Linked DNA regions of Homo sapiens. The protein of the gene in region 2 interacts with the protein of the main gene of each other region in a pairwise test. Each region holds a gene or a part of one and is shown on either strand. Other genes may lie near its edges.

Region 1 (8,366 bases), on a different chromosome or scaffold from region 2:
AAACAACACACGCACGCTACACATCGGTTATATGTATGTGTGTGTGTGTGTGTGTGTGTGTGTGTGTGTGTGTGTGTTTGCAAAAATGATCTCTGGAAGGATACGTGAGAAACTGGCGGCCTCTAGGGACAGGGGGACAGGGGTCCAGGGGTATAAGGGAAATTTCACTTTTCATTGCATCTTTTGGATTTGAGATTTTGTGCCTCTTCTCAACTGGAGGTGATGTCCCCCAGGGGACATCTAGCAATTTCTGGAGACATTTTTGGTTGTTGCAACTGGGGGGAGGTATTACTGGCATCTGGTGAGTAGAGGTCAGAGATGTTGCTAAACACCCTGCAGTGCCCAGGGCAGACCCCACAACAGAGCAAGAGCTGGCCCTAAATGTCAGTAGTGCTGAATTTGAGAAGGTTTGATCTATTAAAAAACATAATAAGGCTGGGTGTGTTGGCTCATGCCTGTAATCCCAGCACTTTGGGAGAGCAAGGCGGGTGGATCACCTGAGGCCGGGAGTTTGAGACCAGCCTGGCCAACATGGTGAAACCCCCTCTCTACCAAAAATACAAAAATTAGCCAGGTGTGGTGGCGGGTGCTTGTAATCCCAGCTACAGGAGGCAGGAGAATTGCTTGAACCTGGGAGACAGAGATTGCAGTGAGCCGAGACCGTGCCACTGCACTCCAGCCTGGGCGACAGAGCAAAACTCAGTCTCAAGAAAGAAAGAAGAAAGAAAGAAAGAGAGAGAGAGAGCAAGAGAGAGAGAGAGAGAAAGAGAGAGAGAGAGAAAGAGAGAAAGAAAGAAAGAATAGAAGTTTTTTTTTTTTCAGGATGGTCTTTATTCTGAGGTTGTATATTTTATGGGTTTGATATATCCTTTGTTTTACTAAGATAATATATAGTACATGATAGTCATTTTTTCCACATCTTTACTTGGCAAAATAAAATGTCAGCAAGCCTTATACACTTCTCTAAGCTGAATAAAAAATTATCCGGGCATGGTGGTAGGTACTTGTAGTCCCAGCTACTTGGAAGGCTGAGGCAAAAGGGTGGCTTGTGTCCAGGATTTCGAGGCTGCAGTGAGCTAAGACTGCACCACTGTTCCCCAGCCTGGGTGTCAGAGTGAGACCACATCTCTAGACAAATAAGAATAAATTTTTTTTTTTTACTGGGCTATGAAATCCTAAAGTCTGGAAACTACCCTTTTCACTCAATGGGCTTTTGAAAGGTAATGATTTTAAAATATGTCCACAAAATATTTGATCCTTTTTCCCCAAGAGGTAGAATTACCTCTCTCTAAGTGTGAACCAGATTTGGTGACTCACTGCTAACAAATAGAATTTGGTGCGAGTGATGGTTTCTGATTTCTGAGACTAGGCCACAAGACGCATTGTGCCTTTCTCCTTACCCCTCTCTCTTGGACCACTGCCCCTGGGGGATGCCAGCTTCCATGCTGTGAGGATATTCAAGAGCCCTATGGAGAAGTCCACATGGTGAGCAACTGAGGCCTCCTGCCAACAGCCAGTAAGGAACTGAGGCCTCCTCAGCCAACTTAGAGGCAGGTCTTCCATCCCAGTCAAGCAGAGGACTGCAGCTGGTGTCTTGATTGCAACCTTGTGAGAGACCCCTAGCCAGAACCACTCAGCTAAAGATGCTCCTGAATTCCTGACCCACAAAAACCATGAGATAATAAATGGTTCAACTTGCTAGAGTTTGGGGGGTAATTTGTTACACAGCAGTAGATAAATACAGAAGGCTGGGCACAGTGGCTCATGCCTGTAATCTCTGTACTTTGAGAGGCTGAGGTGGGTGTATCACTTGAGGCCAGGAGTTCAAGACCAGCCTGGCCAACATGGCAAAACCCTGTCTCTATTAAAAAATACAAAAAATTAGCCAGGTGTGGTGGCACATGCCTGTAATCCTAGCTACTCTGGAGGCTGAGTCACGAGAATTGCTTGAACTCGGCAGGTGGAGGCTGCAGCGAGCAGAGATTGTGCCACTGCACTCCATCCTGGGCAACAGAGTGAGACTATGTTTCAAAAACAACAACAAAAAACCTCCCAAAAACAAATATAGAAATCTTTGAGCCCTATCAGTAAGGCAGAGATCACAGAAAGGTAGCCTATGGGCTCTGGTCTGCCTACAGATATATTTCCTTTGGCCAGTACAGGACTACAAAAAATGGAATTAATCACTAATGTTTATTTATTTTTATTTTTTATTTATTTTATCTTTTAGCAGAGACAGGATTTCATCATGCTGGCCAGGTTGGTCTCGAACTCCGCCTTGGCCTCCCAAAGTCCTGGGATTTCAGTTGTGAGCCACATGCCCAGCCATAGTTGCTAACATTTAAAAGTTGGGTATTTCCTTTAAAAATCCAGATTTCTGACTTCTCTTAGAAAGATCTAATATTGCTGGGCCCACATCCCTATGGGGTAACAACCAGCTGGAGATGAATGGTGTTCACCCCTTTAGACAGGGTGTGTGTTCTGTTTTTTATCACACTCACCACCACCCCCTTAAGTCTCTTAGTTAAGTTGCTTTACTCATTTATGTTACCTGCTCTGCCCCAGTAGTCATTTGAGCTTATGCCTTCTATTGTGAGACAGTTTTTAATGAGATGCCCAGGCATAGTTGACATGAGAACTAAATGACCAGAGTTGGAACTTTGATTCATGAATATCATGTAGGATGGGTTACCACTGGGTTGCATAGTGGGGGTGAAAAGCCAGTTATATTTTCATGTCCTCCCTCTTCTGGGGGGAAGAGAGAAAGCTGATGCCGCCTGGAGACAGGATTCCTGATTCAAGTCCCCTTACAGCGCTTCCCATCTCGCCTCCCTGTGCCCTCCAAAAAATAAACTCCTCCAGGCTTGTTTTTTCCATACCTTTTATTGAACTCTGCAGACTTCATTAAGGGACCATTTGCTTAGAAATTCTTAAACATTTGGACATATTTTACAAGACAAGACAGCAGCTGGAGGTCACACAAAGATCACAATTTCATCTCACCACATGCATAAAAAGACACTGGGATTTGTGTGTGTGTGTGTGTGTGTGTGTGTGCGTGTGTGTTGCGCACATGCGCAATGCTTATTTTCACCTTTACAGGAAGGACTAGAGACATTAACTGACGAGAGATGAATAGGACCCACGAATGCACCCCCGAGAAAAGAGTGGCTGAGGACATTGGTCATTTATGGCTAATGTGATTGGCTTGGCCCCTGTCAAGGGTGAGGTGATCAGAATGGCTTTACTGGCAGAAAAGCCCCAACCTCACACGACGGGTTCCTGGGAGAGACAGGGTCTTAGCTGATGGGATCTGGGGGCATACTATCATGACGGCTTTGGGGCTCAGAAAAAAAGATCTTCGGCTCTAAAAGCTGGAGGGCAGGCTGGCCTTAATATCCAGCTGGACTCCCATGGCTCAGGGAATGCAATCCAGTTTCCAGATGTTGGCTCCTATGTTTCTGCCCCAGGAAGTCCCAGACCAAAGGAAGTCCCAACTTCGAACCCTTGGCTTAGTCCATTGGAAAACCACTTGGTGGTCCCCCCCATGGGTCGTGTGTGAGCTAAAATAGAACATGAGGCTGAGAAATGCAGGGTAGGGGAAGAGGAAGGAGGGCAGAGCTGCTCTGTGGGCCCCCAGGAAGTGTGGCTCTGAGAGGGCTGTGGCCCTTATCAGCTTGGGGCCTACAAGCATCAAATTGAGATGTCATCTTGAGTCAAAGAAAGATGACCTTGATGGGGCAGTTATGGGTTTCAGTGGGAGAGGGGCTCCTCATTTTTCTTCTCTTCACAGTTAGGTAGGGATTCATTAACTCCCCCATTCACTCACACATTCACGCATCCAGTCATCCACTCAGAGGCCAACCAGTCACACATTCACTCACTCACAAAAACACAGGTTGGATGACCATCATGTGCCAGCGGCATAGGTTGGGGATAACCCTGAGTTCCTGGTGCAGAAAATAAGATTCTCAGTTTTTGACCTTGGATTGAGAAGGACCTATGAAATCAAGATAGACCTGGAGAATCCTCCCTGTCCCCACCCACTCAGGCACACTCAGCTCAACCAAGAGGGAGGCCCAAACCCCAGTGAAGCCCAAGGGGCAGAGCCAAGCTGTGGATATGTCAGAGTTTCTTGGGCATCTTCTCTGCTGCCTGCCTCTTTCCAATCTTGGTTCAGATCAGGGAAGCAGGAAGTATGGGAAGATCCCTGCATGGCCCCTTGAGGGCATCCTAATGGGACGGAATTGGGAGTTTCTTATATTTTCATGAAATATCCTATTTTTGTCTCCTTGTGTTGTTGCAACTTGAGTGATTCTGCAGGGCAGAGCCTCCAGTGAGGAGTTGGGAGGAATCTTGAAAACTGGTTTTTATTTTATTTTGGTTTCAGAGGAAGGCGGCTGCTCATTCTACCCATCCAAACATATCATCCTGCCCAACCTCATACTAAAACAACCAAAGACAAACCAGTCTTCGGTTCACCCTGAGGTTGAAGTCTCACTTTCTCCCAATCCACCATACATAAACCCTCTCTTGTCAAATGCTTTCCTTAGAGAATGCAGTATGCAGGATGATTTGGGATGGAGGCCACAGCTGCAGGAGAGTGGCATTCTGCTTGGAGGCAGCCAAGAGCCTGGTTTTGCTGTGAAACTGGATTAAAAGCTGCCTTTCTCTTTTGACCCTTCTGGATTTTTTTCATTGACGGGGACTTTCAAAGGTCTTGAGTGGGGTCTCTTATTTGATTTACCAAAAAAACAAGCCCTTTTGGAATGGAGCCATTTGCTATTGCCTGGGAAGTTGTTCATTGTGGGGATGGCTAGTGGGGAACAGATATCATTGCATCTTTTATACAGAAAGCCCCAGGCTCATGAGGGCACAGGAGCTGGGCGGAGGGGCTGAAGCACCATAAGACAGCCAGCCAGGGATGGGGGACAGCGTGGATTGCTCCTTGGCTGGCCTGGGGAAGGGTAGCATGAGTCTCATCCCAATGTGGTGCCTGGTAGGCCACTGGGGATGGGTTGGATTGGTGACTGACAGTCATTAAAATGTTCCAAGACGGAGCCGGAAGGAAGCAGACTTGTCTCTTGGACACCCCCTCTGAGAGCTCCAAAGCCCAGAAGTTGCATTCCTGCTAATTGTGCTGCATGCCTTTGCCTCAGTGGCTTGAGCTTATATCCAGAGTGTTGAAACCACCTACACACACACACACACACACACACACACACACACACACACACACTCCAAGAAACAAAGAGGAATTTCTGTGGTTGTTCAGCCCAGTTTCCATGCAATGCTAGGGCCCCTCTGCAATGCCCATTTTTTACACCATCTAGCCAGCCTCTCTTTAAACACCTGTGATATAAGGGAGCTCACTGTCCACCATGGCATTGAGCTCCATGGTCAGACAACCCAGCCTGTTAGGAGGGCTTCCTTAATTTGAGCTGCAATTGACCCCATCCCTTTCATACAATAGAAATTTTCGGAGAACTTGCATACAGCCAGCTGGCAGCTAAGTTTTTTTCTTCAGGTGCACTGCCCCACTCCACCCCATCCTGGCCAGCCTTTAGGAGATCTTTTCAGGATCTTTGGAGGGAGGAACAGAGAATTAGGTTTATAAGTGAAGATGAGGGTTCCCTCGATTAACAGAGCCCTACCCAAATTCAAGTTGGCATTTGGGGTAGTTCAGGAGAAATTCTAGGTTAAGATAAAATCAGGGAGAGTGGATGGAAATGCAAACTATATAACCTCTTTCTTGATGAAAACAGCAACAGCCATAGGCAACAGTGTTTGCTTATCTGGGCATCAAACCCAGGAAACTACTGGCAGACTTTTTTTTGTTTTGTTTTTTTGCTTTTGTGCAGAGGAAAAAAAAATCTTGTCTGTTTTATTTGACTCTGGTTCAAACCAGACTATCAGAGGTTTTCGGGGTGGGAGAACTCTGATCAGGGTCATAGTCCAGAATAATAAAATTCATATTTGAGTTGGCTTCCTCTTGGGAGTTATCTGATGGGATGGCTCACTGCCATCTGAGGGTCCCAGTTTGGCTCAAATTTCTGATTCTAGGCAGAGCCCCAAGCCCTGCAGCTGACAGTGAGGTGGGTGGTATACCAAAACCTAAACGAATGCAAGTTGGAGATTATCTGGGCTTTCTTCATCTTCCTGCATGAGTTGACGGATGGAGAATCACTTTCTGCTGAAGATCCTGCCTAGTGAGATGTCCTCCGCCCACCCAGGACTGAAAACTGCCTCTGGAATTAATTATCAGGACAGTCCAAAAACTCCCCCAGGCGTGGATAGGTGGAAGCTGGAAAACTGCCCCTGTCCTTGCCACACACCTCCTGCTCTATGGAGCCAGGCAGCTGGCAAGGGAAGGGGAGATGAGCTAGCAGATTCGGGGACATCTCTTCTCAGGGTTTGGCTGCAAGGGTGTCTGGCCACTGTTTTTTGGTGAAGCTGTTAGAAATGGATTGAAATGGACTGGGTGCAGTGGTGGCTCACACCTGTAATCCTAGCACTGGGAGGCCGAGGCAGGCAGATCACCTGAGGTCAGGAGTTCAAGACCAGCCTGGCCAACATGGAGAAACTCTGCCTCTACTAAAAATACAAAAATTAGCTGGGCGTGATGGTGCGCTCTTGTAATCCCAGTTACTCAGGAGGCTGAGACATGAGAATCACTTGAACCTGGGTGGAGGAGGTTGCAGTGAGCCGAGATTGCGCCATTGCACTGCAGCCTGGGCAACAGAGCAAGACTTTGTCTCAAAATAATAATAACAAAAAAATAAATAAATAAACAGATCGAAACAAGGAACTGATAAACAAGTTGGTGAGATCGGAGGCCCAGCATGTTCTTGTGAGGTTCACGAGAACCTGAAAAACCTCTGACCTTCAGCTCTGATTGATGTTACAGGCCGACAGGGTGCTGGACATGTGGGAGCAGCCCAGCCAGGAGGGACTCACATGTGTTCTGGATCTCAGAAATGCCAGTGATGAGTTTGCTTGCATGAGATTTTTGGTTCCAAGATCTCTGGGGATGAGAAAACTCAGTCCCTTCAGATCCCTAAAGGGGTGTGGGATATAAGTGAAACCAGCCCACATCCCATCCTGATTTTGAGGGCCATCTGTAGCTCTGCTTCCCTGGGTCTCATTCCTGCATTCATGCCCTGGATTCTTAAGAACAACGAATGGGAGAAACACACAGAAATGAATGAGGAAAGTCACAGCATTGACAGAGTCCAGGCCTAGTGTCAAGAAATGCCTACACAAGGAAGTCAAACCCCAAAGTCTTTCCCCACCCTCAAGAAATCAGAATCAAAAGGAAGAAAACCCAAACAGCCCAAGGGACAATGGTAGGAACTGCAAAAGACCAGAAAACATCAGCTACGATAATGACCAACAATGAAACTCCTAAGATATTGTTCTGTATTACAAAAGAAGAAATTAGACTCAATTGCCCTATTATAAATTTGCTAAAAATACATATATATATATATTTTATCTGAACAGAAAAATAGACTACTCTGAGATGCGTGGACATTCTATGACATAGTCGCGCATCAGATACTTCTAGAGCCAGAAAAATGGCAACAGAAAATGCAGAGGTAACTCTTATTTCTGGGTGTAGCCAGGACTGGTTTGGGTTGCCTGGGCTGAGTGACATGAAAGCATTTGGATGCTGTCCTATAAGCAGTGATAGGTGAGGAAACATCAGCTCGGGGCTGGAAGCTTTCCATTGTCCTGCCGGGGTCTCAGGGGAGCCCCTTCTCCCTCCTGCCCACTCTGCAGCTACAGAAAAAGTCCTTTCCCAAAGAAGCATGTCCGGAGGCTTTTTGCCTTGCTCTCTTTTGATTCAAAGTTACTTGAATTGAGGCTGAAAAAAAGCCTGGGGTATTGTTACTTGAGATTAGTTGGTAGAGAAATAAGAATAGGAGAGAGATTAGCGATAGAGACCTGGCTTTAGTGGCTCTTGTCCGTGGTGAATTTTAAATATCCCCTTGTCCATGGAACTAGACACTCCAGCTGGGACTGGAGCAAGACAGAAATATACAATAGTTACAAATATCAACAATACATTACAGTTTTACAGAAGAGAATACTGTTTTGTTTTTCTCCTTAGAAACATGGATCTTATTAGGAGAAAGGGCAGAGACGAGGCTACAGTTACCAAGACACATGGAGAAGCTGGAAGTCAGTTTGAAAAAGTTTGTATCACCAGCAGTTTTCAGGGGCAAGCTGGGTGGGTTAAAAGAAATGGCCTCCTCAGGATTTTGTTGTTTTTCCTTCTTACTCTTCTTCCTTCTTGATCCCCAGTCCTTTGGAGAAAGGGACTTCACGGGAACAAATGTTCTCTCCTCCTTTTTTCTTTCCCC
Region 2 (10,587 bases):
TGGTGAGACAGTTATGCAGTTTCCTAGTCAGCCAAGATCCTGAGAATGGGGTAGATAAGCTTGAAAATCTGGGAGCCAGTGGCTAAGTATCAGCAATCCTCTTTTTTGAGCATTAACAGTAGAAACTACATAGTGGAAAATTTTCTCTTCCTCCCACTACTCCCACCCAAGTGCCAAGAGCACTCCTCCAAAGAAAGAAAAGGAAAGTATAAACTTAATACCTTCTATAGTTTCTACACTTCTCCTAGCCTTTTCTCATATATTATCTCACTTGATCCTCAAATCCCCACAGCTGTAGAGACTGGGGCCCTGAGAGGTTAAGCAGCTCATTCTGAGAAACAAAGCTGGTTAATTGGCAAAGCCTGAGCTGGACCCAAGTTCTCCTGATTTCTGGTCCTATGCTCTCTCCACATCATGGTATATTCGCTTTAGCTGGCAGGCAAGATTGTTTGGAAAGCAGCCCAGACCCCTTTTTTTGTTGCTGATGATACAAGTTATGTGCAGACCTTGGGTTTATAAAAGCAATGACAAATTGAAAAAGAGAAGATGGTAACTACAAACAAACAAAAGACCCCACTTATATCCTTCTAGAAAAGTAAAATTGACACACAGAATTGTGTCTGTAATAGAAGAAAAGCTTTCATTTCTTTTCGCACTGTCGATAAGTAATTCCAGACATTGAAACTCAAAACATCCCCTAGTTCCTCTGCAGAAAGCCTCAAGTTACAAGTCAGGAAGCAAAGGTCTTTTGCTTCTTTATTATTTTGGAGTGAAGATCTGAACCTGAGTTGAAACAGGATCTGGTTATGCAGAGAGGAGAAATAGACTGCTTGGTGGAGTGAAAAAAAGAATCATTCTATTAGAATGTTTAACATCTTTAAAATCACATTAAGGACAAAGCTAACATTTTCCCAACTTGTATAGTCAGCTATTGCTATTCAGGGATACATTATCAAAACTGGGGGTTGGCCAAGCACCTAGTTTTTCTTTCTTCTCCCTATGTTTTGCTGACCACAATATGATCACTTCAATGCTGTTAACACCTCCACTGTCTGGTAAAAGTTGAGTGTCCAGACTTCTGAAAAACTTCATTATCTGGGAGACAGTTGAAAGTCTGAGAGTATTTGAAAAAAGCCACTAGAAAGTAAATTAAATCACTCTTCCCAGCCCACCTCACTTTTCTGACCAGGAGGGTTCTATAGCTACTCTCGCTACATGTTCTTCATGGGTACCCTAAGTCATCATAAAAAGGTTAAAATGTTTTTAAAAGCAGGAACATTTTCCATGGGATTTGTTTTCCACAGCTGGCACATTAATGTGTATTATGAGCACTGTCCTAACTGCTCCCAGCTTCTTTTATTTTTGGCAATATATTCTTTTAAATGTCTATGGGAAAATGGTACAAATGTGTTTACAAAATTTCAACACCTGAAGCAGTGATTATGCTTCATTATCAAAATAACCTTGAGGCCGGGCGTGGTGGCTCACGCCTGTAATCCCAACATTTTGGGAGGCCAAGGTGCGCAGATCACTTGAGGTCAGGAGTTTGAGACCAGCCTGGCCAACATGATGAATCCCCGTCTCTACTAAAAAAAAAAAAAAAAAAAAATTAGCCAGCGTGGTGGCGCAGGCTTTAGCCCTGCTACTCGGGAGGCTGAGGCAAGAGGATCGCTTGAACCTGGGAGGCAGAGGTTGCAGTGAGCCAAGATCACGACACTGCACTCCAGCCTGGGTGACAGAGCAAGACTCCGTCTCAATTTAAAAAATTAATAATAATAACCTTGAGTCCCCATTATGCCAGATAAATGAGTGACATTGTTTTACTTAGAATACAGGACTGAAGACCGCCCCGTCACATGTCCTCAGCATTGCTGTATATTGTGCCCTTCCTCCACATCCTCCCCAGGCCTCCCTGCCTGGCTGAAATGGCTCACACAGCTTCCCTTCTCTTTCTGTCATCGTCTTGGACTGCTGCCCAATCCCTGGCCCTCACCTTCAGGGGTGACCTTATGGCTGGAACGAGGACTGGAGAAGAGCCAATGGGGCAAGGCCAGTATAGCTTCAATGAGTGAATCCTGGAAATAAAAGTAAGTTCACTTAACTTATTAACAGTTCCAATAAAATGCTAGATGGGCTGGAAGGTAAGACCCAATGCCTTGAATGAGGTTTGTGTGTTATCAATGCATTTAAGTGACTGGTAATATATTTGTCCTGCTATCATTATCAGAGAACCCAGCTATATTTAAGCAAATTGGCTTACTTCTAAGAGGTGATTTTATGTGTGGTTGATGAAGCCCAAACAGCCATCATCAGATATAAGCATTTCAGCTGTAAGCAGGGAAGTTTCTGACAACCTTCTTGAGACAAGGAGAATAAATCAATACAACACACACCTCTAACTTTACCCATCATTGGTTAAGATTGCTCAGTTCAAGAATTTTCTCTTTGACTTCAGATTTACACTATTTGGTGGCTTCCTTGTCTTTTAATAAGCCACTTCAAAAAAGTTATTGGCTAGGTGCAGTGGCTCACACCTGTAATCCCAGCACTTTGGGAGGCCGAGACAGGCGGATCACTTGAGGTCAGGAGTTTGAGAACCTCCTGGCCAACATGGTGAAACCCCCCGTCTCTACTAAAAATACAAAAATTAACTGGGCATGATGGGGCACATCTGTAATCCCAGCTACTCAGGAGGCTACTTGGGAGGCTGAGGCAGGAGAATCGCTTGAACCCAGGAGGCAGAGGCTTCAGTAAGCCTTGATTGTGCCACTGTACTCCAGCCTGGGTGACACAGTGAGACTCTGTCTCAAAAAAAGTAAAATAAAAACAATTATTAAGGTGGCTTCTAAAAATTAGGTTTGATAATAGCTAAAAGGGATGGGCCTTAAAGGTTTTTTAAAGTGCATCCTGAAAGACTGCATTGTGATCTTTGAAAGTGCTTCAGAAATAAGAAAAAAGGAGGGATAAGTAATAAAGTAGGTATAACTTTTGAAACACTTGAAAAAACAACCCATTTAGCCATATAAACATTTTCTTCACCCATAATCACACATATCAAATTGGAACTGGTTACATAGATATAAATATCACAACCACCCAACCCCCAAATCCAAACATCATTTCCAAAAGCAAAAGAAAAAGGATTCCTTCTCCATATGGTACTGGGTCTTAAGGCTGGAATCTCTGAGAGAAGAGTCTTGCGTTATTGTTTAAACAACCTTTATTACCTGCCTCTGACATTCCCCAGGGTTACAGAGCAGGGGGCATCTGAGCCTCAAGTTCCACGGATGAAGCAGACACTGCAATAACAACTGAATCAATAGAGGAGAGGCATTTGGAAGTACTGGGGTGATACACCCAGTAATGGTAATCCTCAGCAGAAGATGGCATAGCTACCAAAAATCAGGCGTTACCACTGGGATGAAAACTGGGGAGGCAAGAAAATCATACGGTTGGAGTCATAGATCATTTCCCTCCCCGTTGAGCACTCCTCCCCCTTCCGTCCCCCATTAAGTTCATTCTATCCCACAGACTGGTCCTAGTGTCCTGCTAGCTCCCTGCTGAAAGAGAGAGGGAGGGAAAAGATGTCTGAGGTCTCTTCATTTCCTTTGTCTCTGTCCCTAAGGCAACTGGAAGCTGGAGCTGCTGCAGTCGGCCTGGCAAGCCCGTTGGCTCTGCAGAGTGAGCAGTCCCTGGCAGCCCCTGGAGCAGCTGCCAGTTAGACGGCCCAGAGTTCTGATAGAATGCATTGCTTCAGTTCAGTGCCAAGTGTTGGACGTGTTGGATTCAGTTCCCAGAGGGCTGGAGCGTGCTGTCAGGGCTGTCTGAAGACAAGAGAGCAGAGGCAGTTTAGTGCAGTTGGATGTGCGGGGTAGGGGTGGAGGCGCAGGGGTGAAGAGGGAGAAACTGGCCCGAATGGGTAAGGTGGTGCTTCTCCTTCCAGGGCCTTCCAGACAAGGTCTCCTGGCCTCTCACCATTATCTGGGCCTCAGATGAGGCGAACCCTGGAAGGGAGTTGGGGGTGGAAGGTGGGAGGCGCGCCCAGGGATGAGCGAGATGAGGAGGGCGCGAACCAGCAATCTGGGGCTGTGGTTTTAGACCCGCTCAGCGCCCTGGGCGAGGGCAGGCAGCCCCTCGGAGGCAAGCTGGCGGCGGCCCTCGGCCTGGGAGCCCGCGGCAGCCTCGGCGTCGGCGGTCAGGGCGCCTCCCGGGGCCCATTCGTGCTCGGCGCAAGCCTGGGACGGCTCGTCCTTGGCCTCGACGAGCTTACGGGAGCGGGTGTAGGCCAGGATGAGGCCTCCGGCCAAGCAGGCGTAGAAGATCATGATGAGCAGGATGTAGAGATAGGCGTCGTCGCCCTTGGCGCTGGTCACCTCGCGGCCCACGAAAGGGTCAGGCACGACCCCCATGCCCATGCTGGGACGAGGGCCAGCGCCCAAGCCGCTGGCATTACCCCGGTGGTGCAGCTCGAGCAACAGGCGGCTCAGAAGGGTTCGCAGCCGCTGGCTCTCGCTGCAGTTCATGGCTTTCGGGGAGTGACACGGCGGCTCCAGGACGCTGCTGACCTTTCCCCCTGGGCGAGGGGAAGCGAGCTAGCGAGCGGGCCGGCCGGCGGGCAGGGCTCAGCAGCGGAAACAGCGGTAGCACCCAGCTCTCCGGCGAGCGCGCAGTGGCTGGGGGCGCCGACGGCGGGGCCTCCTTATTCCCTCACTCCCGCCCCTCCTCCCCTTCCCCACCACGCCCCCTCCGGCCCGCGGCCGCCTCTTCCCAGGCTCTGGCTGTCTCGCTGCTCCAGGGAAAGGGGACAGCTGGTGGGGGGAGGAGAAGGGGACAAGAGTGGGGGCGAGGCTGGGAGACGGGCGGAGGGGGCGGGGGCTCGGAATGCGCGAGGCCCCAGGCAGCAGACGCTGGCAGGGCAGCTTGCTGGGGCCAAGCCTGGACCCTGGGCTGCGGAAGAGAATTCCTTCCAAGTTCTGGCCACCTGCCCTGCAGGCCAGGCTTTGGCCCAGATACAGCATTTGGCCCCCTAAGGCAGCTCTGCCTTGGGGCGCTCAAGGGAGAGGGCAGACGCCTTTCCGCAGCAGAGACCCCTTGTCCACATTTTATGGAAGTTACTCCCATATACAGGGACCCAGGCCTATCTTTCTAGTCCTCATTCCTTTCCTTTTCCCCCCGCCCCCCTTTTCACCCCCCTCCCACCTTGTCGGAGGAGAGCATCTTATTCAGAAGATGCTCAGGCTGAATTTGGTGACTGAGTGCTCAGGCACCTGCTAGAAGGCCAAGGCAGAGTAGAACTCCCTGGTTATCCAAAATGGTTTCTGGTGATATAAGTGATATTACACCTTCTTGGAAGCACCCCTGCTCTGATGTCCTATGACACTTTTTGAAAAGTCAACACATCTTAGCACATGAATGTACTATTCATAATGGGAGCCTGTTTCCCATGGGTAAGTAAGCCATCTTCCCAGAAGTGAAACCAAGTTCTTCCAATAAGAGTAGCATGCACATTTTAAAAGGCCCTTTGACTACACTCTGTGGATATCTCGGGATCTGAAAAGTGCCAGTTCTAGAGAATATGCTCACCCTACTCCCAGTTAGGCCAGCAAACAGCTGTGTGCCTCTCTAGACTTGGTAACAGGTCTAGGCCCTAATGGCTTTTAGGGCAGCCATTTTTTTCTCAAAGGCTGTCTTTTTTTAGGGGAAAACAAGGCACCAAGACAAAGATCAGGCCAGATATGTTAAATTGGAAACAGACTGAGCTTCACAAAGGAAAAGGGTTGGTTTGTAGATGGTGGGGTAGAAAAAATGAGGTAGTGCTGGCTAGGTCTGGTTGTCCATAGTTGCCAAATGAGAGCAGAAAGCAAGAAAAGTGTATGACCTTAGGCACACCTTGAAAATAATGCTGCCTGTTCAAGACCGTTCAGTCCAGGGACCATTCAATCTATAGGTGCCATGGGTTAAAAAAGGAAGGTTTTCCGATGCCTCTTCCCCAACCGTTCTTCAGCCCACCATCCACCCAGGGGCTGTAGCCTTCTGTGTGTTCAGGTGAGGTTGGCACCAAACTGTATCCAGGGTCTCAAACAGAGCCTTGCTTCACAGCCTCTAAACAGGCCTCAGAGACATTCCACATGACCCTGACACTGGCTCCCTTCTAATCACCTTGCCTCAATATTCTCACCTCAGAGGGCCTCAGGAAAGAATTGTTAAAGCAACTTGGCAGGATGAATGCCAGAGGACACAGCCAGAGAATTTTCAAAGCACTGCTAACCTAGTGATATGACTGTTGAGCTAAAAAGACTTCTCTTATCTGTTAAAACAGGAGTCCCCAACCTCCCAGGCTGCTGGACCTTGGCCTGTTAGGAACCAGCCGCACAGAAAGAGGTGAGCAGAGGGCAAGTGAGCATTATCGCCTGAGCTACACCTCCTGTCAGATCAGCAGTGGCATTAGAGTCTCAGAAGAGCTCAAACCGTATTGTGAACTGCGCATGCCATGGATCTACAATTGCATGCTCTTTATGAGAATCTAATGCCTGATGATCTGAAGTGAAACAGTTTCATCCTGAAACTATCCACCCCTCCCCAGTGTCCATGAAAAAAATTGTCTTCCACAAAACCAGTCTCTGGTGCCAAAAAGGTTGAGGACTGCTGTGTTAACATATACCTAGAAATAGCTAGGGTTTTTTTTTTTTTTTTTGAGAGGAAAGGAGGAAGAAACCCCTTTACTGTAACATACAAATAATCATTTAAACTTGTTTTCTAATTTCAACAGCCTTATGAGCTAATAGGATTCTCATTTTCCAAAGAGGAAACTGAGGTTCAGACTGGTTAAGTAGCAGGACTGGAATTATAAAGTTTGACCTTCTTCTTCTCAGTCCTCACACATTACTTGTGTCAAATGGGTGGTATTCATGAGCTACCTCCATTTTCCCACCTCTCCCTCCTCTTGAACCTTCTAGAGTCCAGTGCTTTCTGCCAAAACTACTTTCTATAAGTCAGTTCACCAGTGACCTCCGGGTCAAATTCAGGGGTCTCTGCTCCCTTTGCATCTTTGACCTCGAGGATGAATTTGAAACCATCAACCACCCACTCCTTCCTGTAACTGTCCTACCCTTGGCTCTTGTGGCATTGCATTCTCAAATTTCTCTTCTTATCTCTCTGACCCACCATTCTCTGCCTCCTTTGCTGGCTCCCCTTCTTTCCTCCTCCCATTAACTGTTGGAATCCCCAAAGACTCAGTCCTCAGCTATTCTCTCTCAACACCCATTTCCTTGAAGAGTGTCTCTTACATGGTTTCACCTACCACTTGGCATATATTTAGCCAAATTTGAATCTCTAGCTCTGATTCTTGGTAGCATGTCTCAGATCCCTCTGCTCCTTCCTTTCTGGTTTTATTGCCACAAGCTTAATCCATGTTCTCATTACCTCAGGTCAAATATGCAAACAGAGAATCTCCTGGCTTACAGCTGAATCTATCATGTTATGGTTAGAATAATTCTCCAACACCACTTCTATCAATTCAGCCCTATGTTCAGAAACCCAGGAGTTGTTACTCATTGATTCTTTAACAGAGTTTAGTCTTCTGTGGTGGAACTTAAGTTCTCACCACCAATAGACACCATCTTCTCCCCTTTGAATTTGAAAAACAGCATCTTCCTGGAGTTCCTCTGCAATACTCTGTGCATTTTGCCTTCCTCAAAATTCGTTGACTGAAAGAAGCCTTGCTCTATGCCCCTGTTTGTGCTTTCAGATTCTTCACAATGCACCCTTCTGAGCTTTACTTTGCAGCATTCAATGCAGAAATCTTGGAAAACACAAAAAAGCAACAAGGAAAATTTTGGAAATCTTGGAAAACACAAAAAAGCGACAAGAGAAAAGAACGAAAAATTATCAATGGTGCATACTCATGACTCTCTCTCTCAAATCTCTCTCTCTCTCTCTCTCTCATGTTTCATGGCCTTTTTCCCTTAAAAACATACTGTAAATTTTTCCATGTCATTTACTATTTCTCCATAGCGTTATTTTTTGTTGTTGTTTTTGTTTTTTTTAGAGTAGATCACTTACAAATTTTATTTTTTAAAGAACATCTTTTCCCCAGCCACAGTATAGTTATAAGCTAAGAATAATTTCCAATATTGCACAATGAATGCATCCAGATCCTGCAATATTGATCAAAAGAGTGGATTAAAATGGAATATGATAGCAATTTCATGGAAGTCTCCCTTTCTAAATACTGACTCCTTAGTGTTATTTTATTGTCTACACAGTACTCCAGACTATGGATCTACCATAACTTATTTAACTTTGCCATTTATTGTAATATTTCTGTTATTTTCATGTTTTGCTATTAAAATAATGTTTTAATAAACACAACGCTACTTCTAGTTTTATTGAAAGAAATCACTACCAGAGAGAAGTCAACCTACTAATTTATAGAAGAATGGCATGGGGAGGGATAGATGTGTAAAAGCGGGTGGAAATAGAAACGGAGAATAGTCATAAAATTTAAAAAGGCCCAGCACTCCAAAAAAAACAACAGGTGTGGGGTGGAGGGGATCCTGGCTTTCTTTTCACACTAGGGGCTGATGGGCATCCTTTAAATCTCAGTTCCAGGCCAGCCTGGAATGGCTGAGATGCTAACCCCTTTCCCTACCACACTTAATGAAACTGCAAATCCACCAGATGGGCACTGGTTCTCATTCCTCACCACCCCTCCACCCCCATTTTCCACGAGCCCCATACCTGTCAAATAATCATCTGTTTATCCATCACCTGGAACTCATTTCCAAAATGGTAATCAAGGGTGTTGACAAAGGGAAGTAATTTACAATCATGTATTTAGACTTTCAAAGAGTCTCGGGAAAGGTTCTCTTCCATGCCAAGTTTGTTTTAAAAGTACAATTGAGGCGCCATGGATAGGAAATGCTTTCCCCATTCCTTGAGACTGTGAGTGCTTCCTGCCAACAGTGCAGCTCTATGGAAGTTGGTTGAATTGAACTGAGTTGAGTTTGGCTAGTTGCCAAAGGACAGACACAGATGGTAAGCACTGTCGGAGTCCAGAAGGCTGGCAAAGCCACAGTGGGCTCTAAAGGAGAGAAAGAAAGAAGGCTTCATGAGGCACCAACTAAAGACTGAGAAGGAATCATTCATTCATTCATTCATTCATTCAACAAATATTTATTACATGTTACTTTGTGTGAAGCACTGTGCTGGGTCCTAGAGACACATCGGTGAGCAAGTCACATCGGTGAACAGTCTGTGCCTTTATAACTCTCACAGACAACTTCTTTGTGAACTGGGGACAAATAGGGAGTGCCAGGATGTGGAGCTGGGTAAGTAGTGGGCAGGACGACCAGCCAGAATTTGGAGAGAACTGAGACTCTGGGCCCAATCTCTAAGCACTAGAGTCCAAAGCCTTGTTTGGAAAAAGGAAGACTCCAGGTGGTCTGAGCTCACTGTCCCAGGCTATGCTGCAAGCTTCTCTACCTCCTCCTAGCAGCACAATCTTGAGGGTATGGTTTGCCATAAGCCACCACAGTAGGTCTGTTCTCAAAAGACTGATGAGAATAAATTAGACGGTTCCTTAATCCAACTGGGGCTTCTCAGTTTTTCCATGGGAATATACACAGCATTTCAGACTAACTGGGGTTTGATAAAGATCACAATATTTGTAGGTTGGAATGGGCCTCAGGAGCTTCAAATGCCTTACTTAGAGACTTCTTGGAGATCTTCGTGGGCTTGTGCTGATATCCTCCTATATTCAGGCCACATACTGGAGCATCAAATTTGGTCCCTGATTTCATTTATCAAGTGTCTAGCATATGCCAGGCATATTACATACATTATACTAATTAACCCTATAACAACCTTATGAGGTGGGCAGGTATGGATTCAACAGCAGTATATCTTCAATGCTGGTCAATCAGAATGGACTAACAAACCATCAGAATAGATTTTGACTGTGAACAACCAGTATGGCCTTACAGAGCCACAACATCCTTGGGCAAAGAAGTAGGACAGAGGCACAGACTAAATGGCTTCCCATTTCCCAGGGGATCAAACCAAGATCTCATCTCCTTAGGCTTTGGGGCTGTCCTGGTCATTCTGAACCTCTCTTTATGGATGCTTCCAGCTGCTCCCGTTGCTCATTGCAGGTACCTGAAAAGCTCCCTTGCCTGCCAACCCCCGTAAAGCAATGGCATCTATCACACCTGCCCCTTTCTCCCAGTAAATTCCTAAAGATGTCACTCCTTGGCTCAAAATTCTTGAATGGGTCCACTAGACTTCCAAATGATCACCTTACTGTGGCCTTCAAGACTCTCTGTGCTCCGGCCTGAAGATGCTGTCCAACCCTACTTACAGCACTAATTACCCAAAATGTCTTCAATGCCACACACCTTCTCAACTAGATGAAATCTCACTGTCCTTAGCAATCTCATAGCGTAGAATAATAGTGACGGATGGGCTCATCAGATGGCCCCTACAGACCTCATGAGGGCAGGTGCTGTGTTCTTCCTCTTTGTACCCCTCACCATGCCTGGCACAGTGCCTGGCACATAATATGTGCTCAGGAAATTTTTACCTAGGTCT
Region 3 (11,837 bases), on a different chromosome or scaffold from region 2:
TGGCTAATTTTTTTTTGTTTTTTTTTAGTAGAGATGGAGTTTTACCGTGTTGGCCAGGCTGATCTCAAACTCCTGACCTCAGGAGATCCACCCACCTCGGCTTCCCAGAGTGCTGAGCTTACAGGCGTGAGCCACTGCACCCAGCCTCCATTGTAATTTGCAATCTCTGGCACAGACCTTTTACCCCACTATCAGGTTTATGCCAACGGACGTTGCTATGAGAAGGTAGAAAAACAGAAACTGCTTACAGCAAATGTCCATCCATTGTTTCTGTTTCTGATGGAAGAGTTCTGTGGGTTATAGCCCTGGGATCTGTTCCCCCACCCATCGTGACATTAATTCTTCAGCGTGGATGGTATCAGGGTCAATTTACAGGACACTGGCCCCAAACTCAATGGGCACTGCCTGTCCCCAGAAGCAGCTGGTCCCTCTCAGATTGACATTCCCTGAGGGCAAATAAGGAATACAAAGCACGTGTGTCCAGGAAGAGGACATCATCCTTTTACGTAAATGTAAGGTCACCGTCTTGGGAGAACAAAGACTGCCCCGTCCTCAGCCTCCCTGCTCTCTGAATTATTATCTAAACGGAAACACAGACACTCTCTGGGCAGCACCTCAGCCTGTCTCTGGGCACACACACAAAGATGCTTTCACTAAGGAGAAAGCATAAAGATATTGTGGCTGGGCCCGGGCATAAATCTCTCTTGTCCCAGGAGGAGACGTGGCTGCCTGATCCTCGGCTGAAACTTTGGCTGCGCAGGTCTGCGGGCCCACCTCTCCCCTCTAATTTGATTTCCTGAGTCACTGTTAAGCCAGGCCTGGGTTCATACCCTGCGTAATTTTCAAAGCATTAGGTTTTGAAAAGATCTTGGCCGTCTGCGCAACCGAAATCCTGGCTCCTACACAATTTCTCCCTTCTCTGGAAATCTGTAAGAGGAACAGGCTTGTGAGCATCCAGGGGCCTTTCTTTATTAACTGGGATCAGGGCACCCTTAAGAAATGGGGTAGGGAGGTCACTTGTTTTGTCTTAATCTTTGTACTGCAGAGTCCACACATAAATATTTCTGTGAACAAGCAGGCTCTTAAATCTCATGTTTTTATGCTGTAGAATGAAAAAATGCCTATGATTGGCATTGTCATCTTCTCCATGGGAAAACAAGCTGTTTAAAGGTCCAAATATTTTGTGGGTTTTTTTAGGGCCAAACTTTTGTAGGTTGGACAAGACACATTTTATTCAACCCATATTTACTGGGATCCTACTGTCTGTGAGGCATGGGCTGGTTCTCCATTTAAGTCTTTTCTATCTGGCAAGTTCTCTGATCCTGTTGTCTTGCCCTGGGACATATCTTTAAGCGAAGAGAACTTAGGTGGGCTGGCAACTGTTAGGAGCCAAATAGAGCAAGCACCATCTTACGTATGTGTTTAGTTTCTCTCTCTGTTGATTACAAGGCAAGCTCCAAACATTAAGATGATGGGCAGCCCTGGGGGAGCTCGGTGCTGGAGAGGAGTGATTTTTTAAATCAGGAAACAATCTAATTCTCTGTTTGAAGCTTTCCAATAACCCTCTCAACCAAATGCTAGGTTCTTATTTCACTTCTCAGACCATCTGGCTCCCGAGTGGAGGGAGGGTGTCTCGGGGTCTCCTGTAACTCCCTGCAAAGGGGACGAAGGTGTGGGCAAGCAGCACTTTTTACTCTGGCCTCCTGGGGCAGAGTGACTTACAGATCAGCTCATCTGTGAGTTTCCCATCCAGTGAGACTGGCCCAGACACTGAGCACTGCAGGGAAACTGAGGCCGGGGACCTTTGCATCATTGGCATCCTTACTGTGGAGCTCCGAGGAAAATAAATGGCCCATGCCTCAGTTTCCTCATCTGAAAATGGAGTGGGGATGCCCAGGAGAATGTTAGCTCAAGAAGGCAGGGATTTTATGTTTTTGACCTGCTCTAGGGCTTAGCACAGAGTGGTGTTCAGTAAACACATGTTGAGTTCACTGGGTGAGTAAACCTTCGAGGTGATGTTACCCATTTCACGGAGTGGGAGACAGGCTCAGAGAGGAGGTGGCGTGATTTGCCTGTAGTCACAGACTCGGGAGAGCTGGGAGAGGTGACACTGTGTCTGTGTGGCCCACTGAGTCCACGCATGGCTGAGGGCCACGTAATGATTTTCACGGTGAGCCTTAGGCACTTTTGCCTTTGCAGGACTCCAATAAAAAAAAAAAAGATGGAAAATTATCTTTTATGACTGATGGCCTAATAATGAATATAACCCATGTTGGATAATATTCATTTTTTTCTTCTTATTTTAAGATCTGAAGACATTTTCTTGGGCCCCTAAAAGACATCTCCGCCCAGGCACCCTGCGGGATGGAGCCGTGAATGCCATCAGAGGCCGCTCACCTGGTCCTCCTCTGCCCTGAGGTCGGGCATGGTGCTGACACACAGGCTGACGGCTGTGGTGGCCACGAAGAGGATGGAGAGGCAAGCGAAGACCTTCCCGGGCAGCCCGGACTGCGGGTTTTCCACCATCTCGCGCAGCCGGTTCATGCACAGGCCCCAGCGCGAGGAGTGCGAGGCGGGGCGGCGGGTCTCCCTCTGCTGCCTCAGTACGTCCTCCCTGTGCAGCTTGGCCAGCTCCTCCAGCTCCTCCAGCTTCCTCAGCAGCTTCCGCAGGCAGCACCTCTCCAGGTGGGCCTCCTCGATGCCCCAGTAGGCCAGCTCCTCCTGGAAGGACAGCGCGCACATCTCCTGCAGAAGCACCAGCTTCCCGGCCGCCAGGAAGCTCACGATCACCCCGAAGGCGCTGGGGCTCCTGTCGAAGAAGAACTCCTGGCTGTCCTCGTCGTAATCATCGCAGAGCTGCACGATCTCCTCGTAGCTCCGACAGAGCCTGAGTTTGCTCAGGCGGCTCAGCGGGAACCGGTCCAGTGTGCTCCAGGGGAGGAGATACCTCCTGCCCCCCACGTTGATCAGGATCTCCTTCTTCAGGTCCACTGGGGAGGCGTCCAGGGCACCCACCTTCCGCACCCTCCGGTAGTAAAGGCCCTTGATGGACGGCGTCTCCATGGGGCTGGACAGGAGCTGACTCCAAGGGCTGTGGGAACCATAGTGGTGGTGTCTGGGATGCAGGCCCCCGTCTCTGGAAGGCATGGGCATTGCTGAAGACCACCAGGTAGGAAGCGCTGGGTTTACCAGTCTGACACCCAAGGGACAAAGAGCAAGCAAAAGGAAGGGAAATCAGTCTTGGGGCAAAGAGTCCTGGATGTCACGACTGCAGATGTTCTTACGTGTGCTTTCCTGTGACTGCATCTGCATGGCTTGTTCTTTTAACCTTTAGTTCAACACATATTTATTGAGCACCTACTATGTGCTTGGGATACATCAGTGAAAAAAACCCTTCCCTGGTGGAACCTCTACCGACATCTCAGAAGGATGTCTCCAGAATAGACGTTGCACGGATGGGGGCTTGAGTAATTCAGTCCTGAGCTGGACAAGTCGGAGCGGTGCCACTTCTGGGCTCTGTGGTCTCAGGTATGTGGCTTAACCTCTCTGATCTCAGCATCATTCATTCAAATGACAAGACTCATACTAATCTTGCAAGGTACAGGTAGTAAAAATAGAGCTTAAGAATGTAGGCTCTCAGGTTCACTGGCAGGGACCGATCCCTTACAGACTGCCAGCACAGGTGGGTTACTCAGTGTCTCTGAGTCCTTTGCTTTATCTGTATGACTGGGGCAGTCTGAGTGCCCACATCGTAGGGCATGGCAAGGGTTATATGCAGTAATATACAAGAAAGTGTGTATTAATAATACTTCTAGATGCTTCTGACATGCCTGGCTTCCCCTAACTCACCTCAACAACCTCATGAAGTAGACATAAGAGCTCCACTTTATAGATAAGGAGGCTGACGCACGGAAGGTTTGCGTGTCTTGCCTACTGTTTAGCAAGCACCTGACATCAGGAAGGTTCAGCGAGGGTCTGTTATTAAAGGTTCGAGTAGCCCAGGAATGTGACTATGCTTAGCGAGCATCCAAGCATCTAGGTCTCAGGAGGAACTCCACCAGTCTCGCTTAATCCCTCTTGGTCGCTTCCCCATTTGGGGAGGCCTTTGCTAAGGGGACGGAGGAGCATTGCGTACTTGCAATCACAGTACTCCTCCATGTTCGTTGCGTGCTTGCCTCAGCCATCCTTGCTGTGTGACCTCCAGCCAGTTACTCCCCCTCTCTGGGCCCGCAGGCTTTTATGTGCAGAATGAAGGGGCCTCCAGCCGCAGTGGTTCATGCCTGTAATCCCAGCACTTTGCGAGGCAGAGGCAGGCAGATCATCTGAGGTCAGGAGTTCGAGACCAGCCTGGCCAATGAAACCCTGTATCTACTAAAAATACAAAAATTAGCTAGGCAAGGTGGCATGTACCTGTAGTCCCAGCTACTCGGGAGGCTGAGGCAGGAGAATCGCTTGAACCCGGGAGGCGGAGGCTGCAGTAAGCCGAGATTGCGCCATTGCACTCCAGCCTGGACAACAGAGCGAGACTCCATCTCAAAAAGAAAAAAACAAAAAAAAATGACGGGGCCTCTAATGCTGTCTCCATTTCAGACCTATATGAGGTGCTTGACTTAGTGTGAGTGTTTTAGATTTAGCCACTTCACATATTTAAAAAGTCCTTTTCATAATATTTCTCACCTTCAGATCCTGCAACCATTTCTTATGCTATTCATTCTAGCCAAAGCCATTTCCAAAGCATCTATAAGCTTACATTTTCAGATGCACTCCACTCCAATCAAGAGAAAAACTCGGCAGTGGAACGGAAATCAAAGTTCCTCTCAATTTCAGAGCCGGTTGGATTCCGGTGGATAGTGGAGAGTGAATCGTAACCTATTTCACACTCTTGCTCCCTACACAACATTCTGTTGCTCTGAATGCATTACTTTGCTCACAGGGAATGGCCAGAGGAGGATGAGGAGCCTGCAGAGAGAAGAGTATTTTGAAATCTGGGGAGCCCTTTGCAAGCTTCCTCATTTTCCCAGTGCAAAAACCAAGACCCAGCGAGCGGAAGTAACTTGTCCAAGGTCACACAGCAAATCCGAATCCAACCCAGCACTCTGTCCCCCAGCCTGGGGCTCCTTCCAGAACCTGAAAACTGCCCTTTCTGCATTCACTGAATAAACCCAATTTTGCCATCTACGGCTCTCCAAACAGCTGGCAAACAGCTCCTTCTGGAGCACGGGAAAGGAATTCACTCAAACCAGCACTTTTGCCAAGGATGTCTAACAGCGTCAACTTCCCCCTGGCCCCCGCCCACCCTACAGCAAGCAGTAACTCTTCCCCTCCAGTTTAACTCACCTTCTTGTCTCAGGGAGCCAGTTTCCAGCTGTTTCTCTGCCAGGCAAGGGGAGCCCATCTCTTGGTGCCCAGGGAAGGGACAGGTTTCTGGTGGAGATGAAGGGGAAGAAAAAAATCCCCAAAACAGCAGTTTCTAGCAGAGTCAGTTTCCAATCTTTCTTCCCGTGCCTCCTCCAGAAACCAGAAGTTCATTCATTCTGCATCTCTCTCTCCAGCAGCTGCAGGAGAGCCCTGGGGGATTGAGGTGGGATTTTTTTTTTTTTTTAAAGGACCCAGAAGTCCCTTTCCTTATGAGAGATGAGGGTCTGGGGGTTCTTGCTGGGAGGGAGCCAGGGCAGCTGTCCTGGTTGAGCAGCGGACTCTGCACTTCAAGTCCCACGGGGACAGCCAGTGTGGGGGGGTGTGGAATGGGAAGGGCTTAGAAATAATCTCTCCATCAGCCAGCAGCAGGAAGAAGCAGCAGCCGCTGCCACTCTGCCAACCGCCTAGGAGGCAAGGGGAGCTGTCCTCCCTCCTCTGGCATGGAGGAGCACAACTCGGGAGGAGCAGAGGGCAACTTGGGGCCGGAGGCATCTGCAGCTACCTGTCCCAGGCACCCCAGAGTCTCTCGGGGTATGCTGATGATGGTGACAGGCTCAAGTTGAAGCTGCAGGAGGAACTTTTTGCTGCTTTTAAGCAGCCCAGGCCTGGGACAGGTTCAGACAGAAGCCCAGGCTCTGAGCGCTGGGTGGGAGTCAGGGGGGCTGTGTTACAGAACAGCAATAGGAAGAGCTCCGAGCTTGGAATTCACACACATGCCTGGATCCTGGCTCCTATGTGAAAGGCTGGGTGACCTTGGCCAGGTGAGTTAGTGCTTCTGAGCCTCAATTGTCTTGTCTCTAAAACATGGGAATGAGAGAGGGTTCAGGGAAGGTCAGAACCATAAGTGCAAGCTCCTGTGCTGGTTGGATGGTTGGGTGGGTGAAAAGGAAGAGGCATCAGTCCAGGGCCTGGGTGTGAACTTGGACTCTGCACTGCCTGGCTGTGTGTTCTTGGTCAGTCACTTCCCCTCTCTGGGCCTTGGGTTTCTCAGTCAAATGAGGACAGTGAAACCAGCGATGGCTGCAATTGTAAAACCAGCATCTTGTAGTTGCTCACTACACGTTGACTGTTCTTCACTTTCTTAAGAGGTTTTGCAGCCCAGGCTCTTGGCTTCTGAATGTGTTATCTTCACTGCATTTGATAGTTGAGGCCCTGAGAAGAGGCTTGCTCAAGGTCATCTTGCTGGTTAGAACCATCACTTAGGCCGGGTGTGGTGGCTCACAGCTGTCATCCCAGAACTTTGGAGGCGGAGGCGGGCAGATCACAAGGTCAGGAGTTTGAGACCAGCCTGGCCAACGTACTGAAACCCTGTCTCTACTAAAAATACAAAAATTAGCTGGGCATGGTGGCGGGTGCCTGTAATCCCAGCTACTCGGGAGGCTGAGGCAGGAGAATTGCTTGAATCCGGGAGGCGGAGGTTGCAGTGAGCTGAGGTCGCGCCACTACACTCCAGCCTGGGTGACAAAGTGAGACTCTGTCTCAAAAAAAAAAAAAAAAAAAAAGAACCATCACTTAACAGACGCTTGAGTTTTGATGGGAGGATCCAGGAGTGAGGGAGATTAGAGGGTGAGCCTTCCACAGCTGCCTGCAAGGGGATGACAGGTGCTGCTGACCTAGGTGGGCTCTCTGTGGCCTTGGCAATGGGAACGAATCCAAGCAGAGAAGAGAACTGACTGAATGGAGGTCCATCTGGTATTGCGGTTTTCAAATGGTATTGCTTGAAGCCTTAGGGCTCTGCAGAAATGATTGAGGGGCCTGGCCTGGGGCAGTGACAACGGGGAGGATGAACCCCTGGACCTGCTACCTCAGCCATGGCAGCTGCACTCTGATCTGTCTCCATAAGACTGTAAGTGTAACCCCAATAAAGGCTGTGGCCCAGCATGGTCCAGTGTCCACACAGAGCCACTCAAAGAGATCCCAGAGCACCTGCCAGTAATGGAGAAGTTTCCTTCCCTCCTTCCACTGACTCCCGTGTTCCTCAGACCCCACAGCTGCTCCAATGGTGCTCTTAGAAGAGTCTTCAGAATTGTCTTTCCAGCTCATGATTCCTCCTCCTACCCCAGCTGTCTCCCCACCTCTCTCAGCTGTTTCTTATTTGTCTGGATTTAGCCTTTCTGGTTAAATCTCCCCTAACTTATCCCCATTCCTCTCAGTTCTCTCTGGATCCTGAGTATATGGGTTCAAATCAAGAATTTACCAATTCCCTGCTGGGTGACCTTGAGCAAATTTCTTAACCTCTCTGTGCCTTAAATTTTTTTGTCTGTGACCTGAAGATGACAGCATCTATCGATTTGTTGTGAGTTTTGAACAAATCAATTTACATTGATAAGGCTCTTAGAAGACTGCCTGTCACAAAAGTGAGTCCTATCTATTCAAATGCTTGCTATTATTATGATTATCTTTTTTTTTTTTTTTTTTTTTTTTGAGATGGAGTCTCGCTCTGTTGCCCAGGCTGGAGTGAAGTGGCAAGATCTTGGTTCACTGGAGCCTCCGTCTCCGGGTTCGAGCAATTCTTGATCCTCAGCCTCCTGAGTAGCTGGGATTACAGGCACCTGCCACCATACCCAGCTAATTTTTGTTTTTTTAGTAAAGACAGGGTTTCCCCATGTTGGCCAGGCTGGTCTTGATCTCCTGGCTTCAAGTGATCCACCTGCCTCTGCCTCCCAAAGTGCTGGGATTACAGGTGTGAGCTACCGTGCCCGGCTATGATTACCATCTTAGCAATTTTTTTTCCCCAAATTACCCAAGAAAGATTTAGGTAAATACAGGAGTCTGCTGTTCAAAAACTTTTCTAAAAGAAGGCTTGATTTACTGACCTAGTGCAGGTCCCTCATTTTACCTATAGAGGAACTCAGACCCAGTGAAGGGGAGAGCCCTGCCTGAGCCCTCCCAGCCAGTGGATGGCACTGCCAGGCTCAGTGTGGACTCACAGTCCAGTGCTCTTTCCACAGCTCAGTGCCTTCTGTCAATACACTTTGCCCAGGTTGTAGGACTTTTCCCTCAGCCTGGTGTTCAGTCCCGTCAGCCCTTTCCCCAGGGCATCCACTAAGCCCTTCTTCAGGTCTTTGTGAAGTCCCAGCCACCTTTTGGCTTAGTGCTACTGTCTTCTTGTACCCAGTGTCCCTCCCGGGTATGGACACTTGACCTCAGCTAATCAGGGCCAGTAACCCATCTCCCATCCTCCTGGCGTCCTGGAAGCCTGGAACTCGAGGCATACGTAGAAATGCCCCACCCAGATGTCTTCTGCCACATTTTTCTGATCAAGGGATGAGCCATAGTGACTACGTGTGAGCTTCTTATGGCTGCAGTAATAAATAACACCAATGTAGAAGCTTTAAATAATGCAAATTTGGTTGGGTGCGGTGGTTTCTGCCTGTAATCTCAGCACTTTGGGAGGCCAAGGTGGGTGGATCACGAGGTCAGGAGATCGAGACTATCCTGGACAACATGGTGAAACCTCGTCTCTACTAAAAATACAAAAATTAGCTGGGTGTGGCGGTGCGTGCCTGTAATCCCAGCTACTTGGGAGGCTGAGGCAGGAGAATCACTTGAACCCAGGAGGCGGAGGTTGCAGTGAGCCGAGATCACGCCACTGCACTCCAGCCTGGTGACAGAGCTAGACTCCTTCTCAGAAAAAAAAAAAAAAAAAAAAAAGCAAATGTATTCTCTTACAGTTCTGGAGGCCAGAAGTCTAAAAGGGGTCTTACAGGGATAAAGTCAAGGTGTTGGCAGGACTGGGATTTTTCCGGAGGCTCTAGGGCAGACTCCGTTTCCGTACCCTCTCCAGCTCCTAGAGGCCTCCTGCATCCCCTGACTTGTGGCCCCTTCTCCATCTTCAAAGCCTGCAGTTACATCGCTCCGACCTCTGCTTCTGTGCTCTTATCTCCATCTCTGATTCTCCTCCTCCTCTTTCCCTTGTAAGGACACTTGTGATTACATTGAGCCCCCTGGATAATTTGGGATTGTCTTCCAGTCTTAAGATTCTTAATCACAACTGCAAAGTCCCTTTTGCCATGCAAAGGAACTTATTTCCATATTTACAGGTTGCATGGGCATTTTGCAGGGTTGGGGGGGCATTATTCTGCCTATCACAGATGTATTTATAGCCAGTACACCGCCTCCTGGCCCCAGCCAATCAGATAGAACCAAGATTTTTTTGTCCAATCAGACAAAGGAAGGACACCTACCCTAAGAGGGCTTCACCCATAGGCTGAGATGAACCAATCAAATTTGCTCTCTCTCTCTCCTGAGAATTTGGACCCAAAGACATGGAGACTTTGGCATGGTAGTGGGTGCTGGCCTTGTAACATCATGTAGAAGTGGGGCTGGTGGCTGCATTGGGCTATGGGTGAGGAGGAGTAGCAGAGGAAGCCACAGGAAGAAGAAGAGTTCCCATTGACCCAGAGTTAACTTCTGTAAAGCCCATAGAACTCGCCCTGCTGTACCTAATACCTCAACCATCATCATCATCAAAATTAGACTGAGCATATCTCTCTGTACTGTTTTGGTAGGAGGACCCCAAGTCCCCAAATTGGTGGATGTGATCACATCTAGCTCTTACCTTCTTAGTCAGATGTCACCAAGGCCTGGCTCTTTCTTGAAGTGTCCTTCAGAAGAGGGAGTTGTCTTTGTCCCACAAAATGGAGCAAGAAAAGGGGGAGCCCTGTGAGAGGCAGAATATCAGCCTCAGAAGATGTCTATGTCCCAGTTCCTGAAGCTGCACGTGTGTTACTTGACATGGCAAAGGGGAATTAAGGTTGCAGATGGAATTAAGGGTGCTCATCAGCTGATCTTAAGTAGTGAGAGTATCCTGAATTCAGCAGGTGGGCCCAATGTCGTCATGGGTCCTTAAATGTGGAAGAGGGAGGCAGAAAAGAGAGTGTGAGAGAGTGATGTGAGGAAGCACTCAATCAGACACTGCTGGCTTTGAAGATGGAGAAAGGGGCAATGAGCCAGGGAATGCAGGTGACCTCTAAAAGCTGGAAAAGACAATGAATAAATTCTCCCCTGGAGCCTCCAGGAGGGAACATGGCCCTGCAGATACCTGGATTTTAGCGCCGTAAGACTCATTTTAGACTTCTGGCCTCCAGAACTGTAAGATATTAAATTTGCATTATTTTAAGCCACTAAGTTGATGGCTTTTGTTATAGCAGCCATAGCTAACTAATACATTCCTGCCTGAAGGAGGGGATAGGCCAGTCACAAACCATCAAGGATATTTGCAATTTGCTGAGGATAAGGCCCTGCCTTGTCTATCTAGCCAGGCCACCCAGCACCTGCTTGCAGAAGTTAGGATCCCTCCCTCCACAGGACATACATTGACCATCAACTGTCATGGCTATGTTGCTCACTGGCTGTGTGACCTCAGGCAAGTCACCTTTCCTCTCTGTGCCTTGGGACAGCAGAGGTCAGGATAGTCCTCGCCTCTCAGGGTTGTCGTAAGGAGCAAATGAACACATGCACGTAAGGCCTTCATTTCAGTGTCCGGCACACACATATACTCAGTAAGTGCTAGCCATTATTATTTTCACCATCTTCAGTGCTATCTATTATTACAGGGTCTGAAAGTCTCCTGATAACAGCATGAGAGGAGCTGCAGTCGATGAAATCCCAGGCTGCCATGAGCGTGCAGAGGAGCTTTGTAACACCTGCGTGATATTAATTGATAATAGCTGGCTTTCTGGGGGAAAGAAAAAAGCTCCTGACGCGTGGTGGTTGCCAGTTGCTGTGGCGTAAGTACCCCTGTCATGGCCAGTGTCGAGCCAACAACAGCATCGTTGAACAGGGAGTTGGGAAGAGATGCTAAGGATCGGCTCTCGCAAGCCTGTGCCTGTGGCCCCTAGTACATCACTGTGACTGTTGCTCCCCAGGAAGGTCAGCGGATGCTCCTAAAGATAGAATCCCTGGTTAATCAAACCTTGGGGGGTGAGCAGCAGCTAGCAAGGTGGAGAAGCGGGTACTGGCAGAAGGGGCAGGTTGAGTCAAGGCAGATGAGCTGGAGAACACGGTGCTTCTGGGAAGCTGAAACGGATTCGGCAGGACCAGAGAGTTGGACATGAAGTGGCAAGTACGAAGAAGAAGGGCAGAGAGGCAGGTGGGCATCAGAAAATGAAAGGCCTTCTCTATTTTGCTGAGGAGCGTGGACTTTATGTGGTGGGAATAGGCATGGGGAACCCCTAGTGAATTTATAGCTGTGGTTCGCTACCCTGGAACATTCTAGAATCACCTGGGGAGCTTAAAAAAATCTCCAATGACTGGGCCACATCTTAACTCAGTCAGAACCTCAGGGGTTGGGGCCTTACTTATAGGGTTGCTTTGATGTCTCTTCGGAATTCTGCCGTGCAGTCAGAGATGGGGACGGGTGGCTTTCAATTAGGAGGATCGTGATCAGATAGGCATTTTCAAGAGCTCATTTGAGC

Evidence for each region.
Region 1: the proteins of KCNE5 (region 2) and KCNB1 come close enough for resonance energy transfer, tested with the Homo sapiens proteins (one study listed by BioGRID).
Region 3: the proteins of KCNE5 (region 2) and KCNG4 come close enough for resonance energy transfer, tested with the Homo sapiens proteins (one study listed by BioGRID).

Annotation. Positions count from the first base shown.
Region 1 is NC_000020.11:49,361,013-49,369,378, forward strand, and holds the end of KCNB1 (potassium voltage-gated channel subfamily B member 1), read right to left. Parts: 3' UTR 2,865-8,366; downstream 1-2,864. UniProt on the Homo sapiens protein: Voltage-gated potassium channel that mediates transmembrane potassium transport in excitable membranes, primarily in the brain, but also in the pancreas and cardiovascular system.
Region 2 is NC_000023.11:109,620,498-109,631,084, forward strand, and holds KCNE5 (potassium voltage-gated channel subfamily E regulatory beta subunit 5), read right to left. Parts: upstream 4,676-10,587; 5' UTR 4,524-4,675; coding exon 4,095-4,523; 3' UTR 3,203-4,094; downstream 1-3,202. UniProt on the Homo sapiens protein: Potassium channel ancillary subunit that is essential for generation of some native K(+) currents by virtue of formation of heteromeric ion channel complex with voltage-gated potassium (Kv) channel pore-forming alpha subunits.
Region 3 is NC_000016.10:84,234,333-84,246,169, forward strand, and holds the start of KCNG4 (voltage-gated potassium channel regulatory subunit KCNG4), read right to left. Parts: upstream 5,681-11,837; 5' UTR 5,338-5,680; intron 3,194-5,337; 5' UTR 3,154-3,193; coding exon 2,398-3,153; intron 1-2,397. UniProt on the Homo sapiens protein: Regulatory subunit of the voltage-gated potassium (Kv) channel which, when coassembled with KCNB1, modulates the kinetics parameters of the heterotetrameric channel namely the time course of activation, deactivation and inactivation and on the voltage-dependence of activation.